2 separate regions of the Homo sapiens genome follow, and region 2 is linked to region 1. The links come from fine-mapping of genetic effects on gene expression. Tissue or cell type: subcutaneous fat. Region 1 holds a variant in brackets; the other region holds the start of a gene. All regions are shown on one strand. Distances are between the middles of the regions.

Region 1 (8,101 bases):
GGCCTGTTAGTCCCAGCTACTCAGGAGGCTGAAGTGCGGGGATCACTTGAGCCTGGGAGGTCAAAGCTGCAGTGAGCTGTGTTTGCATCACTGCACTGCGGCCTGGGCGACAGAGTGAGACCCTGTCTCAAAAAACAAAACAAAACAAAACAAAACAAAACAAAACAAAACAAACAAACAAAAAAAACCTGTCTATCTGTTCCATGGAATAGGTCTAAGATCTCCAACACATCTCATTTGCTAGTTTGCTAGTGAGAACAGTTGTAGAACTAGTAAACTCTATTATTTTAAGCATTTGATCATTTTCTTTGTGGGATTAACTGAAGCTAATCAATAATTTCTTACTTGAATAAAAAATAAAATGTTTAAGAATTAAAAAAAAAAGTGTGCAGTCAGCTGCACATAAAATGTCAGGGTCTGGGATAGGAACAGGTGCAATTTCTACAGTGGCTGCTTCCATTTTCTCCCGAGACAAGAAGCCAGATCATAAGTTGAGGTGAGAAGAAAGGGAGACAGATAAAGCATGAGGAAACATCCAGGAGTTGGGGAAGGAAGCAAGACCGTAGCTGCAGCTGGGGACAGGGGAGTCACATGCGACATTTTTTCTCTTTTTTTTTTTTGAGATGGAGTTTCGCTCTTTTTCAGACTGGAGTGCAATGGCATGATCTCGGCTCACCGCAATCTCCGCCTCCCAGGTTCAAGCAATTCTCCTGCCTCAGCCTCCCGAGTAGCTGGGATTACAGGCATGCGCCACCACGCCCGGCCAACTTTGTATTTTTAGTAGAGATGGGGTTTCTCCACGTTGGTCAGGCTGGTCTCGAACTCCTGACCTCAGGCGATCCATCCACCTCGGCCTCCCAAAGTGCTGGGATTACAGGTGTGAGCCACCATGCCCAGCCAGCACATGCGATTTAAGAGAAGGAAGCGGAACAGAGAAGCCTGCAGAGAAAGAGGGTTGGAGCTAATGGTCAGGCCCAAGAATGTGGGGATGGAGACCCTGTGGGGGTGAGCTGAGAAGCTAGGAGGAAGCGGTCAGAGAATGGAGATGCTGGAAACTCACAGAGGGAGGAGGGGAGCCATTATTGGTGACGGCAGTGGCTCCCAACATTGGCCAGATGTCCAAATCACCCAGGGTAACCTTTTAAAATCCCAAGGCCTAGGCTACACTGAAGCAATTACATCAGACTCTGTGAGGGAGGACCCAAGTATCAGTATTAATTTTTAAAAATGCCTCAGAGGTCCGGGCGTGGTGGCTGACACCTGTAGTCCCAGCACTTTGGAAGGCCAAGGCGGGCAGATCACTTGAGGTCAGTAGTTCGAGACCAGCCTGGCCAACATGGTGAAACCCCGTCTCTACTAAAAATACAAAAATTAGCCGGCGGGGTGGTGCATGCCTGTAGTCCCAGCTACCTGGGAGGCTGAGACAGGAAAATTGCTTGAACCCAGCAGGCAGAGGTTGCAGTGAGTTGAGATTGTGCCACTGCATTCCAGCCTGGGTGACACAGCGAGACATGGTCTCAAACAAAAAAAAAAAAAGGAAAGAAAATAAATGCCTCAGAGGTCTAATGTGCAGAGAACTGGCCTGGGGTATGATTGGAAGAGAAGGGCTGAGGTCAGGTGTAGCACAAGATAGCTGGCCAAGAGAGCAAGGGACCCAGAGGTCTGGGTGGTCAAAGGATCCTCTGTGTTACTTTCTAAGCGTCTAAGAATTAGGGCAGGAGTGGTAGAGAGCGCCAGTGAGAAGGAGCTGAATTTTTTTTTTTTTTGAGACGGAGTCTCACTCTGTCACCCAGGCTGGAGTGCAACGGCATGATCTCAGCTCACCATAACCTCTGGGTGAGGTTGAACCCACTGGGTTCAAGTGATTCTCCTGCCTCAGCCTCCCGAGCAGCTAGGATTACAGGCATGTGCCACCTCACCCAGCTAATTTTGTATTTTTAGTTAAGACAGTATTTCTCCACGTTGGTCAGGCTGGTCTCGAACTCCCGACCTCAGGTGATCCACCTGCCTCGGCCTCCCAAAGTGCTGGGATTACAGGCGTTGAGCCACCGTGGCCAGCCAGGGGCTGAATTCTTCAAGAAACAAAGAGCAGTCACCAGAGGGACTGATACCGGGCAGGAAGTGACGACACACACACTTCAAAACTGGGGGTTTCTGGCCCGGCGTGGTGGTTCACGCCTATAATCCCAGCACTTTGGGAGGCTGAGGCAGGCAGATCACCTGAGGTCAGGAATTCAAGACCAGCCTGGACAACATGGCAAAACCCCGTCTCTACTAAAAATACAAAAATTAGCCAGCGTGATGGCACATGCCTGTAACCCCAGCCACTTAGGAGGCTGAGGCACGAGAATCAGTTGAACTCGGGAGGCGGCAGTTGCAGTAAGCCAAGATCGCGCCACTGCACTCCAGCCTGGGCAAGACTGAGACTCTGTCTCAAAAATAAAACAAAATAAAATAAAAAATACATATAAAATTTAGTTGGGCATGATGGCGTGTGCCTGTAGTACTAGCTACTCGGGAGACAGGAGAATCACTTGAACCCGGGAAGCAGAGGTTGCAGTGAGCCAAGATCGTGCCACTGTACTACAGCCTAGGCAATGGCGTGAGACTCCATCTCAAAAAAACCAAAAAACAAACAAACAAAAAACAACAAAAAAGACTGAGGGTATCAGAAGAGATAGGAGCCAGGAGGTGATCTAGCCTCCCACTTAGGGGGCTGCAGAAGTGGGGGGCCAGGTTCCAGTTAGAGCAAGAAGGGCAGAGCATGTCAGACAGGTAGAAGAGACGGAGAATTTCTCTTTCTTGAGACAGGGTCTTGCTCTGTTGCCCAGGCTGGAGTGCAGTGGTGTGATCACGGCTCACTCGCAGCCTCAAGCGATCCTCCCACCTTAGCCTCCTGGGTAGCTGGGAGTACAGGCACATGCCACCACACCCAATTAATTTTCAATTTTGTAGAGATGAAGTTTCACTATGTTGCTCAGGCTGGTCTGGAACTCCTGGCCTCAAGCAATCCTCCCACCTTGGCCTCCACAAGTACTGGAATCACGGGGGTGAGTCACTACACCCAGCCACTGGAGGACTTCTGATCAACGGTGTGTACTAGAGGGCTCAGTGGAAAGA[T/C]GGGAGAAAGGGGAAAGGGTCGGCCTCAGCCTGTGGGCACGGGGATGACCTGTGAGTACCTGCTCCGCGAGAGGATGATAATTCCACAAACACACACATGCAGAGCACTGGGCCCACCGCCAAAGCAGGAAGCCAGTCAGTGTGCACCGTTGTTACTTTTAGCACTCAGCTCCACATGGCCCTGCCATCTCCCCTGCCCCTGGACCCCAGGGAAGTTACCCAGAAGGCCTGGAAATGGCAGGTCTCCAGCAGGTCCCCGAGGTACAAAATCTGTCGGATTGGCCGTTCTTCTTGCTGGGAGGAGGAAGCATTAAGGAAAACTGGCCTCGGAGCGTAAGGTTGGACCCCAGATCACCCCTCCCCACCTACCTTCTTCTGGCTGCTTTCTTCCAAAGCTTCAGCTCAGAAAAACAGCTGGAAAAGGAAGCCAGCTTATTTCTCCTGCAGGTGTATGCAGGAGAAAGGATGTTGGCTGCAGGACTGTTTGTAATGGCAAAAGATGAGAAATGACATGCCAGTCCTGGTGGCTCACGCCTGTAATCCTGGCACTTTGGGAGGCCAAGGCGGGTGGATCACCTGAGGTCAGGAGTTCGACACCAGCCTGGCCAACATAGCGAAACCCCATCTCTACTAAACATACGAAAAGCAGCTGGGTGTGGTGGCACGTGCCTATAGTCCCAGCTACTTGGGAGGCTGAGGCAGGAGAATCACTTGAACCCGGGAGGAGGAGGTTGTAGTGAGCCAAGATCACGCCTTTGCACGCCAGCCTGGATGACAGAGCAAGACTCCATCTCAAAAAAAAAGAAAATATTAACAAAAAAACCCTACTATTATTACTAATAAAATAAAACCTATAGGCTGGGCACGGTGGCTCACATCTGTAATCCTATCACTTTGGGAGGCTGAGGCGGGTGGATCACCTGAGGTCAGGAGTTCGAGAGCAGCCTGGCCAACATAGCAAAACCCCGTCTCTACTAAAAATACAAAAATTAGCTGGGCGTGGTAGCATGCATGCACCTGTGGTCCCAGCTGCTCAGGAGGCTGAGACAGAATAGCTTGAACCTGGGAGGTGGAAGTTGCAGGAAGCCGAGATCACGCCACTGCACTCCAGACTGGGTGACAGAGCAAGGCTCCGTCTCAAAAAAAAAATAAAATAAATAAAATAAAACAACAACAAAAAAAAACCCACCTTAAATCATTCCTATGTCAGGCTTCCTCTACCATTCCTGAAAGACAGCACCGAGCTCTGCTTCCTTTAGCCCATGAGTGTCCTCTCTGCCTGGATCACCTTTGCCTACCCCTCCACCTAACTCGTTATGTTTTAGATGTTCCCTCCTCCAGGAGGCCCTGGTTTATAGTTTCTAGTTAAAAATACAGAAGAGTGAACAGTGGCAAAATAGGTCTTCCCTTCCCTGTCTCACAGCCATCCTTCCTGGGAGGTAACAGTCATTTCCAATTCTTGGGTACCTTTCCACCTTTCCAGACATTGTTCTATAGAATGTAAATACAGATGGCTGTGTTCATGTCCACATATTCCCCCACCCAAATGGTCAGGTGCCTACTCTGGCTCTTCTTTTTTTTTTTGAGACAGAGTCTCACTGTGTCACCCAGGGTGGAGTGCAGTGGCGCAATCTCGGCTCACTGCAACCTCCATCTCCCAGCTTCAAGTGATCCTCCTGCCTCAGCCTCCTGAGTAACTGGGACTATAGGTGTGTGCCACTGTGCCTGGCTAATTTTTTGTATTTTAATAGAGATGGGGTTTCGCCATGTTGGCCAGGCTGGTCTCGAACTCCTGACCTCAGGTGATCCACCCACCTTGACCTCTCAAAGTGCCGGGATTAGAGGCCTGAGTCATTGTGCCCGGCTGCTGTGACTCTTGTAACCCAACCCTGACCACTCCAGTCTATCACTGACTCTTCACTGGACTGCGACAACTTTGTGAAGACAGGGCCCAGGACTGTCTCAGTCACCAGTGTCCCAGCACTGTCCAGCACCTTGCCACGCTGGACCAGAGCAGGCACTTGTTGTTTGTGGATACACCCACAGACCATCTCCCTGGGAATTCATGCACCTTGACTCTGACCCCTTCCCACACACCCCCCGGCCCCAGTGCTGGAAGGATACATGTGCCTGGTCGATCATGCACTTGCACAGGGTGAAGTCTGTGTGCGGCAAGTTGGTGAGGGCCTTCAGCAGGATCTGGGCGGTGACCGTGGTCTGAAAGAAGGCTGGGTTGAACTGGTACCTAAGAAAAAGAACAAGAGACGTGGCCACAGTGGCACCTCCAAGTCCCCAATCCTCACCAGGTGCCAGGCAGCTGCTTTATTCTGGAGTTTGGGAATTGGACATGCCTGGGTTCCAATCCCAGTCCCAGTGCTTCCCAGCTGTGTAACCTTCACCTCCCTGAGCCTACCTTTCTCCTCTGTGAACAGGGACAGTTAATGCTCACAACTACCCAATGGGGCAGACACTGCTAAGTGATTTATAAACAAATGAGAACAGCAGCAGTGGTCTGGAGTAGTGGCTAAGGAACCAGAGCCAGACTGCCTCGGTTTAAACTTCCCTGCTGAGTGACCTTGGACTGCTTATTTATGACACGAGGAGCAGAGAAGAGAGAGATTAAGAGGCACTGAAAGGCTGAGGAGCAGAGAAAGGAAACTGAGGGGCTGACGGTTTCCTCCCTTGCAAAAGAGGACAACAGAAGGTGGCGGTGGGGGTGGGTAGGTGGGTGGCTCAAGCCTGTAATCCCAGCACTTTGGGAGGCCGAGATGGGCGGATCACCTGAGATCAGGAGTTCGAGACCAGCCTGGCCAACATGACAAAGCCCCGTCTCTACTAAAAATACAAAAATTAGGCTGGGTGCAGTGGCTCACGCCTGTAATCCCAGCACTTTGGGAGGCCAAGGCGGGTGGATCACCTGAGGTCAGGAGTTCGAGACCAGCCTGGCTAACATGGCAAAACCCTGTCTCTACTAAAAATACAAAAATTAGCTGGGTATGGTGGTGCGTACCTGTTGCGGGAAGTCAGGGACCCCAAACGGAGGGACCGGCTGAAGCCATGACAGAAGAACGTGGATTGTGAAGATTTTATGGACATTTATTAGTTCCCCAAATTAATACTTTTGTAATTTCTTATGCCTGTCTTTACTGCAATCTCTAAACATAAATTGTAAAGATTTCATGGACACTTATCACTTCCCCAATCAATACCCTTGTGATTTCCTATGCCTGTCTTTACTTTAATCTCTTAATCCTGTCAGTTGAGGAGGATGTATATCGTTCCAGGACCCTGTAATAATTGCGTTAACTACAAAAATTGCACAACATGTGTGTTTGAGCAATATGAAATGTGGGCACCCTGGAAAAAGAACAGGATAACAGCAATTGTTCCGGGAATGAGAGAGAGAACCTTAAACTCTGACTGCCGGTGAGCCGGGCAGAACAGAGCCATATTTCTCTTCTTTCAAAAGCAAATGGGAGAAATATCGCTGAATTCTTTTTCTCAGCATGGAACGTCCCTGAGAAAGAGAATGCGCACCTAGGGGTAGGTCTCTGAACGGGCCCCCCGGGGCGTACCTGTCTCTTATAGTCGAGATTGCAGAGGTGAAATAAACTCGTCTCCCATAGCGTTCCCAGGCTTATTAGGAAGAGGAAATTCCCGCCTAATAAATTTTGGTCAGACCGGTTGATCTCAAAACCCTGTCTCCTGATAAGATGTTATCAATGACAGTGGTGCCCAAAACTTCATTAGCAATTTTAATTTCGCTTTGATCCTGTGGTCCTGTGATCTCGCCCTGCCTCCACTTGCCTTGTGATATTCTATTACCCTGTTAAGTACTTGATGTCTGTCGCCCACACCTATTCGCACACTCCCTCCCCTTTTGAAAATCCCTAATAAAAACTTGCTGGTTTTTGTGGCTTGTGAGGCATCACGGATCCTACCAATGTGTGATGTCTCCCCCGGACGCCCAGCTTTAAAATTTCTCTCTTTTGTACTCTGTCCTTCTATTTCTCAAGCCAGCCAATGCTTAGGAATATAGAAAAGAACCTACGTGATTATCGGGGCAGGCCCCCCGATACGTACAGCTACTTAGGAGGCCGAGGCAGGAGGATTACATGAACCTGGGAGGCAAAGGATGCACTGAGTTGAGATCATGAGATCACGCCAAGGCACTCTAGCCTGGGCAAGAAGGTGAGACCCTGTCTCAAAAAAAAAAAAAAAAGGAAAGAAAGAAAGCACCCAAGTAAAATTAGCTGGGCATGGTGGTGCATGCCTGTAGTCCCAGCTATTCAGGAGGCTGAGGCGGGAGAATCACTTGAGTCCAGAAGGCTAAGGATGCAGTGAGCCATGACTGTGCCACTGTACTCCAGCCTGGGCAACAGAAGATCCTGTCTCCAAAAAAAAAAAAAAAAAAAAAAGGGCACGAAGAACCCACAATGTCCATCAAGAGCCAGAAGAGATCATTAGGACAGCCACACAAGTGACACAGTGGAGAGCTATACATCCATGACAACAAACTGCAGCCATATCAAAAACAAAACAAAAAAACAAAAAACACTGGATGGATCTCACAAACCCAGTGCTGAGTAGCAAATGGCAAATGCAGAAGAGTTTGTGCTGTATGCACTCCATCTGTATCAAGTTCAAAGCAGGGAAACCTGAGCTGAGCTGAGCCAGATGTATGCATGCATAGTAAACCATCACATAAAGCCAGGCCATGAGAGCATGGGGGAGCAGGGGAATTGGTTGGCATAGAGCATAGGGGGCAAAGAGCCTGTGGTGCTAGCAATAACTTTGCAACATAAATGGTGATTATGTAGGCTTTCATTTATAATGATTTGTTAAACTACATGTTTGCTTAATGTATTAGCCTGTACATGTGTTCTGTAATTAACCTTTATTTATTTTTGAGACAGGGTCTCACTCTGTCGCCCAAGCTGGAGTGCAGTGGTATGATCTTGGCTCACTGCAACCTCTGCCT
Region 2 (8,101 bases), 120 kb before region 1:
TCACCATGTTGGCCAGGCTAGTTTTGAACTCCTGACCTTGAGTAATCCGTCTGCCTGGGCCTCCCAAACTGCTGAGATTACAGGCGTGAGCCATCGCTCCCAGCCTTTTTTTTTTTTTTTTTAGACAGAGTCTTGTCCTGTCACCCAGGCTGGAGTGCACTGGCACAATCTGGGCTCACTGCAACCTCCACCTCCTGGGTTCAAGTGATTCTTGAGCCTTAGCCTCCCGAGTAGCTGAGATTACAGGCATGCACCACTATGCCCAGCTAATTTTTGTATTTTTAATAGAGACGGGGTTTCACCATGTCGGCCAGGCTGGTCTCAAACTGCCGACCTCAAGTGATCCACCTGCCTCAGCCTTCCAAAGTGCTGGGATTGCAGGCATGAGCCACTGCACCCATCCAATCACTTTTCATTCTGGATCATACACTTTATCAATAGAAAATAACTCCTTTTGTCCAAAGTAATGCTATCTGCTTTAAATCCGGTTTTCTCTAATATCAGATTTGCCCTGATTTTTGTGTATCTGCTTTTGACTGATAGCTATTTCTAATCCTTTTATTTTAAAACTTGGTGGTGTTATCTTTGGAAAGTGTTTTGAAAGCTAAACAGTTGAATTTTGTTTGTTGATGTTCCCAAGTACGTTTCACACATTTGCATAATGTTGTTATAACTGATATGCTTGGTTTTATTTAGGTCATTGTGTGATGCTTTTTGCTTTTATTTTCTATGATTCGCTGCATTTTCCTTTGCTTTTCGACCATTGCCAAATAGATTACATTTTCTTTTCCTTTCATTTTAAGCTACTTCAGTGGTTTGAAAGTTGTACATCTGGCCAGGTGCAGTGGGTCAGGCCTATAATCCTAGCACTTTGGGAAGCTGACATGGGAAGTTTGCTTGAGCTCAGGGATTCAAGACCAGCCCTGGCAACAAAGTGAGACTCCATTCCACCAAAAAGTCTAAAAATTTGCTGGGTATGGTGGCACAAGCCTGTGGTCCCAGCTACTCAGGAAGCTGAGGCAGGAGGATTGCTTGAGCCCGGGAGGTCAAGGCTGCAGTGAGCCAAGATTGTGCCACTGCACTCCAGCCTGGGCAACAGAGTCAGACCCTGTCTCAGAAACAAAACAAAACAATACAAAAAAAGAAACAGTAAGACATGGCGCGGTGGCTCCTGTCTGTAATCCCAGCACTTTTGGAGGCCAAGGCGGGTGGATCACCTGAAGTGAGGCTTTCAAGACCAGCCTGACCAATATGGTGAAACCCTGTCTCTACTAAAAATACAAAAATTAGCCAGCCGTGGTGGCACATGCCTGTAATTCTAGCTACTCGGGAGGCTGAGGCAGGAGAATCACTTGAACCTGGGAGGCGGAGGTTGTAGTGAGCCAAGATCACGCCACTGCACTCCAGCCTGGGTGACGAGGCGAGACTGTCCCAAAAAATAAACCAACAAACAAGTGAAAGAAACAGCAGCCCAGATCCAAGGAGACAGGTTGACTGTGGATGGCCGAGGCCGCCCACCTCGGCCTCCCAAAGTGCTGGGATTACAGGCGTGACCCACCACGCCCAGCCAGAAAGCTCGTTTTGTAACCCACTTTTGGTAGCCATGTACGTAGGCAGCTTGGACAATATCTGTGGGTCCACTTGGAGGGAAGGAGGCCAGAAGGCTTGAGGGACATCTGAGTGGCATGGAGGTGACAAGGCTCTGGGAGGGCAGCAGACACTCTTGAACGCCAAGGCATGGTCAATGCCTCGTGCAGTGAGCAGCGACTCTGTGTCAGGCACTTCTCTGAACTCATCCCACGTACGAACTCATTCGCTTCCCACAGCAACCCTCCGAGGTACGCCCTATCATCATCCGCATTGCAGAGATGAGGAAACTGAAGCACAGAGAAGTTAAGTGATGTGCCCAAAGACACACAGGTGTAGGTGGCAGAGCTGGGATTGGACCCCAGGTGCTGTGGCTCCTAATCCCGGCAGGCTGGAAGCACTCCCATATGACTCCCGTGGGGCTGGGGTGGGCTTGGCAATCCTACACGAAGAAAACTTTTTTTTTTTTTTTTTTGAGATGGAGTCTCACTCTCTCACCCAGGCTGGAGTGCAGTGGCGTGATCTTGGCTCACTGCAACCTCCGCCTCCCAGGTTCAAGCGATTCTCCTGCCTCACCCTCCTGAGTAGCTGGGATTACAGGTGTGTACCACCATGCCCAGCTAATTTTTTTTTTTTTTTTTTTTTTTGAGACAGAGTCTTGCTCTGTCAACCAGGCTGGAGTGCAGTGGCGGCTCACTGCAAGCTTCGCCTCCTGGGTCCACGTCATTCTCCTGCCTCAGCCTCCCGAGTAGCTGGGACTACAGGTGGCCGCCACCATGCCTGGCTAATTTTTTGTATTTTTTGTAGTAGAGATGGGGTTTCACCGTGTTAGCCAGGATGGTCTTGATCTCCTGACCTCGTGATCTGCCTGCTTTGGCCTCCCAAAGTGCTGCTGGGATTACAGGCTTGAGCCACCGTGCCCGGCCTTTTTTTTTTTTTTTTTGAGATGGAGTTTTGCTCTCTTGCCGAGGCTGGAGTGCAGTGGTGCAGTCTTGGCTCACTGAAACCTCCACCTCTCGGGTTCAAGCGATTCTCCTACCTCAGCCTCCTGAGTAGCTGGGATTACAGGTGCGTGCCACCACACCCAGCTAATTTTTTTGTATTTTTTAGTAGAGATGGGGTTTCACCATGTTGGCCAGGCTGGTCTGGAACTCCTGACCCGCCCGTCTCGGCCTCCCAAAGTGCTGGGATTACAGGCGTAGTAAACTACCGCGTCCAGCCTAATTTTTGTATTTTTAATAGAGATGGTGTTTCACCATGTTGGCCAGGCTGGTCTTGAACTCCTGGCCTCAAGTGTTCTGCCCACCTCAGCCTCCCAAAGTGCTGGGATTACGGGCATGAGCCACCATGCCCGGCCCTGTTTTGGGGGGTTTTTTGAGATGCAGTCTTGCCCTGTTGCCCAGGCTGGAGTGCAGTGGCACAATCTCGGCTCACTGCAACCTCCGCCTCCCAGATTCAAGCGGTTCTCCTGCCTCAGCCTTCTGAGTAGCTGGGATTACAGGTGCCCGCAACTATGTCCGGCTAATTTTTGTATTTTAGTAGAGACGGAGTTTCACTACATTGGCCTGGCTGGTCTCGAACTCCTGACCTCAGGTGATCTGCCTGCCTCGGCCTCCCAAAGTGCTGGGATTACAGGCATGAGCCACCACGCCCAGCCAGAAAGCCTGTTTTGTAACCCACTTTTGGTAGCCGTGTACGTGGGTGGCTTGGACAATATTTGTGGGTCCACTTGGAGGGAAGAAGGCCAAAAGGCTTGAGGGACATCTGAGTGGCGTGGAGGTGACAAGGCTCTGGGAGGGCAGCAGACACCCTCAACGAGGGTGGAAGGTCTGCTGGGACCAGCACTGCTGAGGCTCTGGCATCTCCGTACCTGTTTCTCCCATTTCCTCCAATGGCTCCAGAGTCCTTTGGGGGAAATACTGCTCCATCCAGACTCTGAGTGGCGTGGGCCAGGGCAGGGCATCATGGTCACCAGATGGCTCCCAGCACAGGAGAGGTACAGAGCCATCCCTCCAGGGTCAGCCTCCCTGGGCAAGCAGGCTGAGTCTACCTTGTCCGGGAGGGGAGGAGGCGCATCCTGAGGGCTTAGGGGGCGTGAGCGGAGGGGAGCTCAGGGTCCCTCGGTGGATGATGGAGGAGCCACATATGGGTTACAGGGACAGACAGAAAGATGGAGAGGAAGAGACAGGGAGGCAGACACAAGGTACACTGACAGGGTCTGAAGGAGGAGGGGCTGGGGGCCTGGACTCCTGGGTCTGACAGGTACAGAGAGGAACAGACACACGCTGAAAGAGACACAAAGAGAGAGGGGACAGGCATAGTGATTCACGCCTGTAATCCCAACACTTTGGGAGGCCAAGCGGGGAGGATCACTTGAGCCCAGGAGTTCGAGACCAGTCTGGGCAACAAAGTGAGATCCCCGCCCCATCTCTACAAAAAAAAAAAAAAAAAAAAAAAGAGGGTGGGGTGGGGAGAGGGGTGGAGTTGGGGAAATACAGAGACACAAATATTGCCAGAAACAAAAAACAAGAAAGGGCCAGGCACAGTAGCTCACATCTGTAATCCCAGCTCTCTGGGAGGCTGCTGAAGCAGGAGGATCACTTGAGGCCAGCAGTTCAAGACCAGCCTGGGGAACATATGGGACCGCCCCCCGCCACCCCTCTGTCTCTACTTTAAAAAAAATTTTTTTTAATTAACAAAACCTGACCAGGCACAGTGGCTCACGTCTGTAATCCCAGCACTTTGGGAGGCCAAGGTGGGCGGATTGCTTGAGGCCAGGAGTTCAAGACCAGCCTGGTCAACATGGTAAAATCCCTTCTCTAACAAAAAATACAAAAATTAGCTGGGCATGGTGACACGAGCCTGTAATCCCAGCTACTTGGGAGGCTGAGGCAGGAGAATCACTTGAACCTAGAAGGCGGAGGTTGCAGTGAGCTGAGATCGTGCCACTGCACTCCAGAAACTGATGGAGAAGAAACATGAAGGCGGGGAGAGAGAAACTGTCAGAGGGAGGGGGAGAGAGGCAGTCTGAGAGATAGAGACACCGAGGTAAACCCGCCTCCTTCCCCAGCCCCACAGGCATAAGTAGGCAGAAGCTCACCCCCACACTGACCTCCTTCTTGGTGCTCTGACAGCGGCAGCCGGTCCTCCCTCAGCTCTGCCCGCCTTCTCTCCTGCTGCTGGCCAAGCCCATTAAGCTGCTACCTTGGCCACAACTGAAGGCCCCACGCCCTGGGAAGAAAGCTACTGAAGAGGCGTCCCTGCTCCCCAGCACCCCAAACCATCAATTAATATTAACGAGGGAAGGCTCCTCATTGCCTAAAGACCCCACTGGGGCTCCAATGGAAGAGAGGCCCCGCCCCCGTGACTCAGGAGGTTAAAGGGCCTGGTGCCGGCTTGTGAGGCCAGTGTCCAGATGGCATCCAGCAGTGGGAGGGTCACCATCCAGCTCGTGGATGAGGAGGCTGGGGTCGGAGCCGGGCGCCTGCAGCTTTTTCGGGGCCAGAGCTATGAGGCAATTCGGGCAGCCTGCCTGGATTCGGGGATCCTGTTCCGCGACCCTTACTTCCCTGCTGGCCCTGATGCCCTTGGCTATGACCAGCTGGGGCCGGACTCGGAGAAGGCCAAAGGCGTGAAATGGATGAGGCCCCATGTAAAGTGTGGCTGGGGTCTGGGCTCTGGGGTCTGAGGGAGGAGGGGCTGGAGGCATGGACTCCTGGGTCTGAGGAAGGAAGGCTGGGGGCCTGGACTCCCTGGTCTGAGGGAGGAGGGGCTCGAGACCTGGACTCTTAGGTCTGAGGGAGGAGGGGCTGGGCCTGGACTCCTGGGTCTGAGGGAGGAAGGGCTGGGCCTGGACTCTTGGGTCTGAGGGAGGAGGGGCTGGGGACCTGGACTCCTGGGTCTGAGGGAGGAGGGGGCTTGGACCTGGACTTCTGGATCTGAGGGAGGAGAGGCCAAGGCCTGGACACCTGGGTCTGAGGGAAGAGGGGGCTGGGGACCTGGACTCCGGGGTCTGAGGGAGGAGGGGCTGGACCTGGACTCCTGGGTCTGAGGGAGGAGGGGCTGGGGACCTGGATTCTTGGGTCTGAGGGAGGAGGGGCTCGGGACCTGGACTCCTGGGTCTGAGGGAGGAGGGGCTGGGCCTGGACTCCTGGGTCTGAGGGAGGAGGGGCTCGGGACCTGGACTCCTGGGTCTGAGGGAGGAGGGGCTGGGCCTGGACTCCTGGGTCTGAGGGAGGAGGGGCTCGGGACATGGACTCCTGGGTCTGAGGGAGGAGGGGCTGGGCCTGGACTCCCGGGTCTGAGGGAGGAGGGGGCTACCATGGGACTGGCTCAGCACAACTTCTGGAGACCCAGGGAAGCCATGCTCCTGCCCACAGGCTTCCAGGCCTTTCATGGGCTTGGAGGCCCTCACTCCTCTGGATGAGACCTTTCCTCGCTTTCTCAGGCTGAGGCCTGGAATCCCCCACCACCCACAGGAGTTCTGTGCTGAGCCGAAGTTCATCTGTGAAGACATGAGCCGCACAGACGTGTGTCAGGGGAGCCTGGGTGAGACCCTGAACCCACCTGGAGTCCTCAGATCCAGCTAGTTTCAGCTGAGATCCTGACAGCTCCATCCCTTTGTCCACCCACTCCCGGCCCCTGGATCCCTCCTCAGTCTCTTCTCTCCCTAGGCCTCTCTCTCCCTCCTCCCTCCTTCCTTCCTTCCTTTTTTTTTTTTTTTTTTTTTTGAGATGGGGTCTCACTCTGTCACCCATTCTGGAATACAGTGGCACCATCATAGCTCACTGCAGCCTTAACCTCCTGGACTCAAGCAATCTTCCTGCCTCAGCCTCCCAAGTAGCTGGGACTACAGGTGCATGCCACCATGCCCAGCTAATTTTTAAATTTTCTTGTAGTGGAGTCTTGCCATGTTGGCCAGGCTGGTCTTGAACTCCTAGGCTCACGTGATCTTTCTGCCTTGGCCTCCCAAAGTGCTGGGATTAGAGGCATGAGCCACCGCACCAGGCCTCCCTCCTTCCATCCTCACCTAATCCTGGCCTCTCCTCCCAGGTAACTGCTGGTTCCTTGCAGCTGCCGCCTCCCTTACTCTGTATCCCCGGCTCCTGCGCCGGGTGGTCCCTCCTGGACAGGATTTCCAGCATGGCTACGCAGGCGTCTTCCACTTCCAGGTACAGCTCAGTTCCTCTGCCCATGCCTCCGTTTCCCCCATGGTGACTTGGTGATATGGATTTTTCTTTTTTTTTTTTTTTGAGATGGAATCTCACTCTGTCATCCAGGCTGGAGTGCAGTGGCACAATCTCGGCTCACTGCAACCTTCGCCCCGCCCCCAGGTTCAAGCAATTCTCTGCCTCAGCCTCCTGAGTAGCTGGGATTACAGGCACCCGCCATCATGCCCAGCTAATTTTTTCTTATTTTTAGTAGAGATGGTATTTCACCATCTTAGCCAGGCTGGTCTCGAATTCCTGACCTCGTGATCCATCCGCCTCGGCCTCCCAAAGTGCTGGGATTACAGATGTGAGCCACCGCACCCGGCCAGCCATATGGATTTCATAGTTAACGTTGACTTGGGGCTGTAATTCCTGACTCTGGGACTGGCACAGCAGAGGCAGGGCCCAGGCAGGGTTGGAGGTTGGAAGCCGAGTCCGGCCCTGCATCTTCTCCCACCAGCTCTGGCAGTTTGGCCGCTGGATGGACGTCGTGGTGGATGACAGGCTGCCCGTGCGTGAGGGGAAGCTGATGTTCGTGCGCTCGGAACAGCGGAATGAGTTCTGGGCCCCACTCCTGGAGAAGGCCTACGCCAAGTGAGGACCCCAGTTCCAACCAGCTGCAGCCCTAAGTCCCCACAGCAGGCATCAAGCCACAGGGGGACCCAGAGTCCCCCAAGCTCTGCAATCCTCCAAACACCCCACCAAGAATCCCAAACCAAGTGACAACCGCCAGAACCCTCATATCACAACATCACCTGAGCAACTTCATGTTTTTTTTTTTTTTCTTTTTTTTTGAGACGGAGTCTCACTCACTCTGTCGCCCAGGCTGGAGTGCAGTAGCGCGATCTTGGCTCACTGCAACCTCTGCCTCCCAGGTTCCAGCGATTCTCCTGTCTCAGCCTCCCGACTAGCTGGGATTACAGGAGCGCACCACCATGCCTGGCTAATTTTTATATTTTTAGTAGAGATGGGGTTTCACCATGTTGGTCAGGCTGGTCTCCAACTCCTGATCTCAGGTGATCCACCTTCCTTGGCCTCCCAAAGTACTGGGATTACAGGTGTGAGCCACTGTGCTCAGCTGTACCTTCAAATCTTAAACCCCTCTCTCCATCAATATTTCACACAAAACATTCCTGGAGACCCCCAGTCACTCATAATTCTTAAGGATCCTGAAATCTCATATATCAGGCCCTGGATTCACCAAATCTGGGATTTATCCCCTCGGGTGAGCTGTATATCTTAGATTGTCTCTCCTGGTCCATTGAGAAATCTAAAGCACCCCCAAAATATTGGGGGTCACCCTG

The links. PIP is the estimated chance that this variant, and not a neighbour inherited with it, causes the effect.
Region 2: it holds the start of CAPN12, and the variant in region 1 is fine-mapped to the expression of CAPN12 in subcutaneous fat (GTEx, PIP 0.94).

Annotation. Positions count from the first base shown.
Region 1 is chr19:38,621,341-38,629,441 of GRCh38, reverse strand. It overlaps EIF3K (eukaryotic translation initiation factor 3 subunit K), which reads right to left. Exons shown (of 8, transcript NM_013234.4): 3 at 5,245-5,365; 4 at 3,340-3,414. Among named protein-coding and RNA genes, the nearest start is that of EIF3K, 6.2 kb to the right of the region's middle. RefSeq lists enhancers at 5,214-5,715, 6,362-7,222. The variant T/C (reference allele first, on the strand shown) is at 3,121.
Region 2 is chr19:38,741,067-38,749,167 of GRCh38, reverse strand. CAPN12 (calpain 12) reads left to right here and starts at 4,694. Exons shown (of 21, transcript NM_144691.4): 1 at 4,694-5,239; 2 at 6,066-6,135; 3 at 6,640-6,758; 4 at 7,258-7,391. The coding sequence starts at 5,003.